2 separate regions of the Homo sapiens genome follow, and region 1 is linked to region 2. The links come from fine-mapping of genetic effects on gene expression. A gene starts in region 2. The other region holds a variant in brackets. All regions are shown on one strand. Distances are between the middles of the regions.

What was found. PIP is the estimated chance that this variant, and not a neighbour inherited with it, causes the effect.
Region 1: its variant is the best candidate, but not a certain one, in a credible set for the expression of PDE6D in whole blood (TOPMed, PIP 0.56).

What each region holds. Positions count from the first base shown.
Region 1 is chr2:231,743,299-231,747,692 of GRCh38, reverse strand. All of the region lies in intron 1 of PDE6D (phosphodiesterase 6D), which reads left to right. Among named protein-coding and RNA genes, the nearest start is that of MIR1244-1, 32 kb to the right of the region's middle. The variant A/G (reference allele first, on the strand shown) is at 2,535.
Region 2 is chr2:231,779,002-231,783,395 of GRCh38, reverse strand. It overlaps PDE6D (phosphodiesterase 6D), which reads left to right and starts at 2,114. Exons shown (of 5, transcript NM_002601.4): 1 at 2,114-2,331. The coding sequence starts at 2,282. It also overlaps a transcript of COPS7B not described here. RefSeq lists enhancers at 2,088-2,317, 2,868-2,947 and silencers at 2,528-2,577, 2,701-2,924.

The sequences.
Region 1 (4,394 bases), 36 kb after region 2:
TAGACCATGGAAAGAACTCGATTTTTTTAAGTGCAGAGGAAAGCCAGGGATTGACATCTAACTTACAGTTTTAAAAGACCCTTTCCTTCTATGAAGAGAATGGAGAAGGAGGCAAGAATAGAAGCGGGGAAAACCAGTCAGAATGCTAGATGGGAGACAATAAAGAATTAATTGTCATTGATAATAATAATAGCTAACACATGGCTTACTAATGCCAAGGACTGTTGTAGCACATTTTATGAACCAGCTCATTTAAATGTGCTCTTCAGTTAGCACACTCTTTCATTCTTTAAAGTATCATAGGTCGGGTGTGGTGGCTCACGCCTGTAATCCCAGCACTCTGGGAGGACGAGGCAGGCGGATCACCTGAGGTCAGGAGTTCAAGACCAGCCTGGCCAACATGGTGAAACCCCGTCTCTACTAAAAATACAAAAATTAGCCAGGTGTGGTGGCGCATGCCTGTAATCCCAGCTACTCAGGAGGCTAAGACAGGAGAATCGCTTGAACCCGGGAGGCGGAGGTTGCAGTGAGCCGAGATCGCACCACTGCACTCCAGCCTGGGCAACAAAGAGCGAAACTCCATCTCAAAAGAAAAAAAGTATCATCGTTTGGATGATAAATTACACGAAACTATGAACCAGCCAATTAACATTTTCAGAGGAGCTTAACACTTGGAATACTTAGTCTTCCTCCTGTTCTCATCAATTTCAAACTGTCTTGTGAAACTCACTAACCCAGACAGCTATACAGTATTAAAGTAGGAAGAAAACTGTATGGGATCTATCTCCAAATTTTCGGAGACTCTTCCTTTTTGTTGCCTTCTGTCCTGGCTCTGTCTCTTGGTTCTGAGTTGTATGTGGGCCTTTCTGTGTTTTTTCTCAGTCTTTTTTTCCCCTTCACTCCGTCCCTGTGTCTCTCCTGTGTGTGTCCCCCGTGTTTCTTTTCTCTTTCTGCTTTTTGTCTTCCCCATTCCTTCTCACTCTCTGTTCTCTTACCCTGATTTCTCTTTCTTCCTCCTTCAACTGGCCGGTGAGGTACGGGCATGTAGTGTGGATCTGTTTATTATATAAAAAATGATGTTGACTATTTCCATTTAAAACGAATCAAGTCTCTCAGAACCAGTGTACTCATTCCAAAATACTCATAGATGATTGTTACAAACTACTTTAACAGGAGTGTCCAATCTTTTGGCTTCCCTGGGCCACATTGGAAGAAGAATTATCTTGGAGCACATGTAAAATACACCAACGGGCCAGGCACTGTGGCTCATGCCTGTAATCCCAGCACTTTGGGAGACCGAGGCAGGTGGATTGCTTGAGGTCAGGGGTTTGAGACCAGCCTGGGCAACATAGTGAAACCCCGTCTGTACTAAAAATACAAAAAATTAGCCGGACATGGGGGCGGGCACATGTAATCCCAGCTACTCAGGATGCTGAGGCAGGAGAATCACTTGAACCTGGGACGTGGAGGTTGCAGTGAGCCGAGATTGCACCACTGCACTCCAGCCTGGACAACAGATTGGGACTCCGTCTCAAAAATAAAATAAAGTAAAATAAAAATTAAAAAATAAAATACACTGACGATAGCTGATGAACTAAAAAATAAATAAAAAAGTTTTAAGAAAGTTTACAAATTTGTGTTGGGCCACATGCAGCCCAGAGGCCATGGGTTGGACAAGCTTGGTTCAAATCATTTTATTATCCTGTTTTCTACTTTCACATCTCTCAAGGAAATTTACCTAGTACCCCGTTCATCTAACTGATCTCTTCTGATCCCCAATCCTTCCCTTCCCATTCTACCACCCACCTCCTTCACTGCCTTCTATACCTCAAGTCTGCCCCCAGCTCCAGCACCAGACTGCACCTAAATCACACCAGGTCACAACTATTCTGTAAGACACAAGAGGATTTGCGTAACCTGTGTTGAGCCAAGTGTCACCCATTCTTCCATAATATTTATGGAATATTTACTTCCTTTTTTACCTTTCCTAACGCTTAATACTTTGCAAACTATTGGTTTTGTTCTGAAGCTTACTTTTAAGATATTCTTATTTTACATACGAAAGTGCTTCCTTATGTTTGCCTGGTTCCAAATTAGAGGGTACCAGAGCCCGATCTCCTCTAAGCAGGAGGCTTCCCATAGGAAAGGAATGTTCCTTTGTGCTCATCCTTCGTATAAATCACCAGGGAGCTTTTAAATGAACAAAGACCTGGCTGACCCAGAGGGTAGAACTTATAAATAGTACTCCAGCCCCTCCTTTAAAGCCTGTCCACCTAATCCTCCTCTCAAGATTGGAAGTGACTTGACCTTTGAGTCTTAAAACTCAGGCTCTTTTTCTCTAAAAAATCTGGTTAGCAGTAAGCTGTTAAAACAAATATGTTTTTAGCCAGATGATGACCAATCATCAAAGCTTGTCTTTCATTTCTAGCATTTTTAGCCAAATGTTTCCTCGGTTTTTTTTGTGTGTTTTTGTTTTTGTTTTGGCTCCTCAGAAGTCAACTTGAAGTTTCCTCTTTTGAGGACCAGCTTTTCTC[A/G]TTGTTATTATTTTAAGACATCTACCTTAATAACTTTTATTTCTCCTTACTAATAGACTATTATGGATTTCCATTTTATAAAGATGTTCCCAAATTGCTGCATTTCTACCATGAACTAAGGGCTTCCTTTTCACCCCTAAAATTACAGAACTTAGAGGGGCCTTCAATGGCCTCAATCCCAACGTCGTTGGATGGAGCTCTCTTTGTATTTCTCTAATGCTGTATTGAGGATAAAATCTTACAAAACTTGTTAAGGATTAAAATGTGCAAGGATTATAAAATGATGCACATGATATAGATACTGGTAGATAATTTTCCAGATTAGGGCACATGCAGGAATAACTATGTATATTGAACTGGCTAAACATATAAATATATTTTATAGAATATATTTTTATGTGATTCCCAAAAAGATAAGCAATTAGGGCCGGGCACGGTGGCTCAACGCCTGTAATCCCAGCATTTTGGGAGGCCGAGGCAGGCAGATCACCTCAGGTTGGGAGTTCGAGACCAGCCTGACCAACATGGAGAAACCCCATCGCTACTAAAAATACAAAATTAGCCGGGCATGGTGGCGCATGCCTGTAATCCCAAATACTCAGGAGGCTGAGGCAGGAGAATCACTTGAACCCGGGAGGCGGAGGTTGTGGTGAGCCGAGATCGTGCCATTCACTCCAGTCGGGGCAACAAGAGCGAAACTCTGTCTCCAAAAAAAAAAAAAAAAGAAAAGCAATTAAGTCCTTAACCTGGTTATTTACAGAGAAAAGACATTCATGTTGTGGAAATCAACCATGTATTTTTAGCTACTTCTCTCCCTTGAAATAAGGGGAGCTTAAATTTACTATTCACTAAATGCCAGATAGAAGACTAATTTAAAACATCTTTCTTTTTTATCATTTAATACATAGATTGAAGAGTAAGTCCTGGCCCCAGGCTTTGCTTTTCTGACCTCTGCCAGTCACAGTAGTGCTTTTTCTGGAAGTTCAGTCTGCTCCAACTGCAGCTTTGTGCAGGGACCCTCCGGGACTTTTCTAGTTTTGCTAGAATGCCTCATCTGCCTGTGAGCCTGGAACTGTAGAAGTCATTTTAGTTTTGTTTAGTCTTATTGTTTAATTTAAGAAAGTCTGATGTCCATGTTGCCGTAGTGGGTACATAGGACACTATCGGCTGTGAAAGAATGAAAAGCTTGTTCAGAGAAGGTCGAATGAGGACTATGTCTTCAGAAAACCTTGGGCTTAGCTGCCTGGGACAGTTTAGATCTGAGCTCAGAGGGGATTGATAGAGCAGTAGTATCTGTTGTTTTCCTTCTGCCGTTGGGAAGCTTTCTCTTAACATATAGAGACCCTGGGATGTGTGAGCATATTTATAGTAATTATAATTGTGAGACATGACCTAAGGAAGTATGTGAACTTGCTTTTGAATTTAGTTGTTTAAAAAAAAAAAGTGGAGTTTGAAAATATGAACCAGAGGAAGGCAGATCACACGGGTGGAGAGGAACGGCACTGTCTGGAGATGTATTGAGCATAGAAGGAGAGTTTGTTAGGAATTGCACACCCTGAGGGGAGAATGACACAGCCAATGTGATCTGAAAGCGACAGTACATTCATGCAGGGATGCCCACAAGCAGGTTGAGTGCACAGAAAGATAGACTCCTCATCACATTGCAGGCACTCTGCTGAATAACCCTTTGTTATATTTTGAGACTTTTCTTTTTTTTTTTTTTTTTTTTTGAGACGGAATCTTGCTCTGTCGCCAGGCTGGAGTGCAGTACATGATCTTGGCTCACTGCTCACTGCAACCTCCGCCTCCTCTGTTCAAGCGATTCTCCTGCCTCAGCCTCCTGATTAGCTGGGACTACAG
Region 2 (4,394 bases):
TCATATTGCTGGCAAAGGCGTAAATTGGTACAATCATTTTGAAAAACTGGCAATGTCTACTATCACTGATCATGTGCATACCCTCCCTACACACTAGCAATTCCTCTCCTAGAAATGTGTGCAAGTGTCTACAAAAAGAAACATGTAAGAATGCTCACTACGGCTTTGCTAATAATAGTCCAAAAAATAACAACCCAAATGCCCGCCAACAGTGGAAAAGATAAATTGTGGTATAAACATACAACAGAATACTATTCAGCAATTAAAAGGCTACACACAACATGGATGAATTTCACAAAAATACTGATAAAGTAAAAAAGCCAGACACATACTGTACATACTGTATTATTATATTTAACTGGAATTCAAGAACAGAGAAAACTGATCTATGGTGATACAGTCAGAAGAGTGATTATCTCAATATGTAAGGATGTAATACTGATTGGGAGGGAGCACTAAGTGTGCTAGAAATGTTCTATATCTTGATTTGGGTAGTGGCGACAGGGGTGTATACCTATGTGAAAATTGTTCCCATACTGTATGTTACACCTCATTAACAAAAAAAAAACTTTTTTAACATGGAAAAAAAATTCAAGTTCAAATGCCACCTTGTCCATTAAAGTTTTGCCAGCTGCAATGAACCTTTTCATCAGGGCCTCCTTAGCATTCTGATGTCATTTCTTTATGCCATTTTATCACACTCCATCTTGAATCTCAGTGGAGTCTCCTTATTTCCCTAAATATATGTTCATCTTCCTGGTGGCAGTGACCATGTCCTTCACCTTTTACCCACTCAGTGCCTGACAAATAACAGGCTGAAAAGATATTTGTTGAATTACATGGAAGAAAAAATTGGGTGAGTTCCCAGATGGGTGAAAGTGGGGACAGGCAGAGGAAGGAAGGCCAAGAGAAGGACAGAGGAGGTTTCCAAGGAAACCGTGGCTCACACTGTAATTTTACCTACTTCCTGAAATCACATTAAATGTCACCTTGAGTGGCAAAAAACAAAACACCAAATCCTACCTAGGCTGAAAATAAATAAATATCACACTCCCTCACTCGCAAGAAATCCACCAAATAAATGCTACCTAATTCTGGGTGTTTCAACAGTGGATAGGAAAACCGTTCAAGGAGAATAATTCACATTGCCATGCTGCTAAAAATATCACCTCCTTAGTGTGGTGCAAAGAGTCCAGACTGCAAGTCAGCCGACTTAGGGCTGAATTCTAACTCTGCCCGAACTTGCTGTGATCTGTGGCCAATCCCTTCGCCTCTCTGGGCCTCAATTTCCTCATACGTAACAACAGGGGATAGATTAGCAAAGTCCCTTTATGTTTTGATATTCTGAGTATACAATCCATAGCTCTCCCGGTGCAAACCAGGAATACAGCAAAAAACCCTGAAATACATGTAAAAGGCGCCTCAGACCAACAAACAAGCACGATTTGAAGAAGTCATTTTGTTCTCTTTCACGGTTTAATCAGTGTTTTTGTTTGTTGTTTGCAGCCTTACCATGATTTGCAGATGTCTGAGTTCCATGTAAACAGAAGTTAACTCTCTGCGGGCTGTCATCTTCTTTTGAGGGTGAGAAGGGTCTTCCCGTTGGGTTTCAAGTCTCGGGATTCCGAAACGACCAACTCAGCGGGCGGGTTTGTGAATTTGCGCACACTGCGCGGCACACTGGAGTCTAAGTTACAGAGGAACCGAGTGCAGGGGATGCTGGGATTTGTAGTCCCCGGGCCTCTTTGTGGTGCGCTGGGATCTGTGGTCCCCCGAGTGCGCCGCTGGAATGCTGGGAAATGTAGTCTCTGTCGCGTCGCACAGTGCAACTCAGCTGCCGTCTCAGACGGCTAGTGTGCTCAGTGGCTGGAGCAGGTCCCTAAAGCCTCTGCAGATCCGAAGCCAACCCTCCGCTGGGACAAACTCTAGGCAACAACACCAGATGAATATTGTGTCCTATGGGACTTCCCGGGGAGGGCCCTTCCCATTGACGTTAACAGTCCCCCTGCGAAGCCGCTGCGCGCTCCTACTGGCTGGTTGAGATGCCAATCGCCAAGGCTGGCTTTCCATTGGTTCCAGGAGGGCACTGCGAGGCTAGGGGGAAGGAGAAGGGATCAGAAGCGGGAGCTGAGGGGAGAGAGAGGCCGGTCCTGGTCTGGCCGCTGCGGCTGCTAGCCCGAGGTCTCCAAGCCGGGCTGCGGCTCCATCCTCGGCTCCTGGGCACCGTCTGCGAGGCTCCGCCGACCAGAGTGAGAAAGCCGCGGGCGGCGACCGCCGCATCATGTCAGCCAAGGACGAGCGGGCCAGGGAGATCCTGAGGGGCTTCAAACTGTATCCGTCCGGGAGCGGGGCGGGGCCGGGAGGACTTGGGAGGCGGCCGCTCACTGAGGAGACTGGCCGGGGGCGGGGGCCGCGCCAGGTGGGCCCCACAGAAGAAGGGCCGCGGGAGGGGAGAGGAAAGGAACAGCGTGCCGAGCACCCGGCGGGACCCGGCGCGAGAGGCGCCCCAAGGGGCGTCCTGAGGGAGGAAGGGGACGTTGACGGGAGCGCCGGGGGGTGGCGGGTGGAGACGGGGGAGCCTGGGGGACGGGGCTGCGAGAGGTGCCGGGCGTCGGAAACGCTGTCGGAGAAGCCGGCTGGGTTCCGATCCCCGGCCGGGACCCAGAGGCCGGGATGGGGCTGCGGCCCGCGGAGAAGGGCTGAGGGGGCGCGGTGGGCTGATCTCGAAGCCTAGAAGCCTCTTTGGCTATAAGCCTACCCGGGGAGCGGGGAACAGTGACTTGGAGCGGGCGACCTTGTGTGGGACAAATACCAGTGCTTTTAAAACTCTCTCAGGTCCCCCACCGCACCGCACCGCACCCCACCCCCGTCTGGTTTCCACAACTTCTCTTCCAAACTTGTGGCTTCTTCCAGGACTGGAGTAGTTGGGGGAGGTGGGGAAAGAGAAGTCCAAGATCGACCTCGTCTTAACACTCTTGGCCTTCTCAGGCATTGGTCACTGCTTCCCCCTCAGCGCCTCAGTTTTCTTTCCAGCAAGATGAGGACCATAGGCTTAGGTGTGGGGTGCCTCGCGCTGGGACTCCTAGCCGAGGTGTCTTTGCTCGCTCCTGTCGGTGCGGTTATGCCTAGCTGTGGTGGAGCTGTCCAGCAATGGTGTGATGTCGCTGGGGCCACGGTAGGATAGAGTGGGGTAGAGAAATCATTGCCTCGGGCCTGTTGTGGTGCCCCTTTTGCATCCTCTCCGTAAGGAAGCTTTGTGTTTTCGTGGAGTGTGTTAGTCTGTCACCATATGATGCAGATGAAAAAATGCAAACTTGGATATTCAAATTTTCCATTCTCCTGCCAACTTTAATCTCTTCATGCATCCTATCTGTAATCTATAGTACGAACGTTCTTAAATTGCTCCCTCAGTGAAAAGGTAGTCACCACTTCAGGGCTCCTCCCTTGGAGGTTTAGTAAAGCACTGTTTTCTTGGTATTCTGTTGCGTTTTCACAATGTCCATGTCACGCTTGCAAATTTAATTGCTTTGCTATAATCAGAAACCAAGTTGGTAATACATTTTAGACCACAGTGCAAAAAGGAAGTTTTGGATGTACAAGTGAGATTTTTCGAATGGAAATTGATCTATGCTTTTTAAAAAAACTAAAGGCTGTATCACCTTTGCATACTACCATCTGTGATAAACTTTCAGTACTTTCATGTTTTGGTTTAGTAGCAGCCTCTTTTATAGCTCCATGTGCCTTTCTGTGTTTCTCTCCATAATGGATCAAATAGGTATATAGGGATGACTGAAGTGCTGGAAAAGCTATGACATGGATTTTATTTTTCCCTCAAATAATTTATACTATTAACATCTAACAATGTAATAATATTGCTACTTAACATGCTTTGTAGACAGTAAACCGGAAACTGGAGAATTGAGAGATTTCAGAAGCAACGTTTTCATCTGATTGGAAATACCGTATTGCTGAAAAGAAGAAAGGCCTTTTTAATGGCTTTTGAACAAAGCAGAAAAGTTTGAGCTTCTCACCTTCAGTCTTAGCTCTTGAACCTGTTGAGAAAGAGGATAAGAGACAAATACGGAAAAGAGTTTCAGAAAGCAGAATCTGTGTCAGCCCACTGGAAGGAAAAGCGAATCAACCGATTCAGTGATGTTAGTGCATCCAGAAACAGGCTTTTGGGAAAAGCTTGACCTGAGCTGATTAAATCCTGAAGCACAAGGGAAGCAGCCACATCAAAAAGTTAGCATGAGAGCAGTGGCGTGCTCATCCTCTGGTAGCCTTTACTGGGCATTTGTGGAGTAAGAGAGAAAAGAAAAGCAGGAATGTTAAGATATGCTACTACCTTCAGGAAAAAGTAAAATTAATGTTTTAGTAAGAAACTGACTATTGTC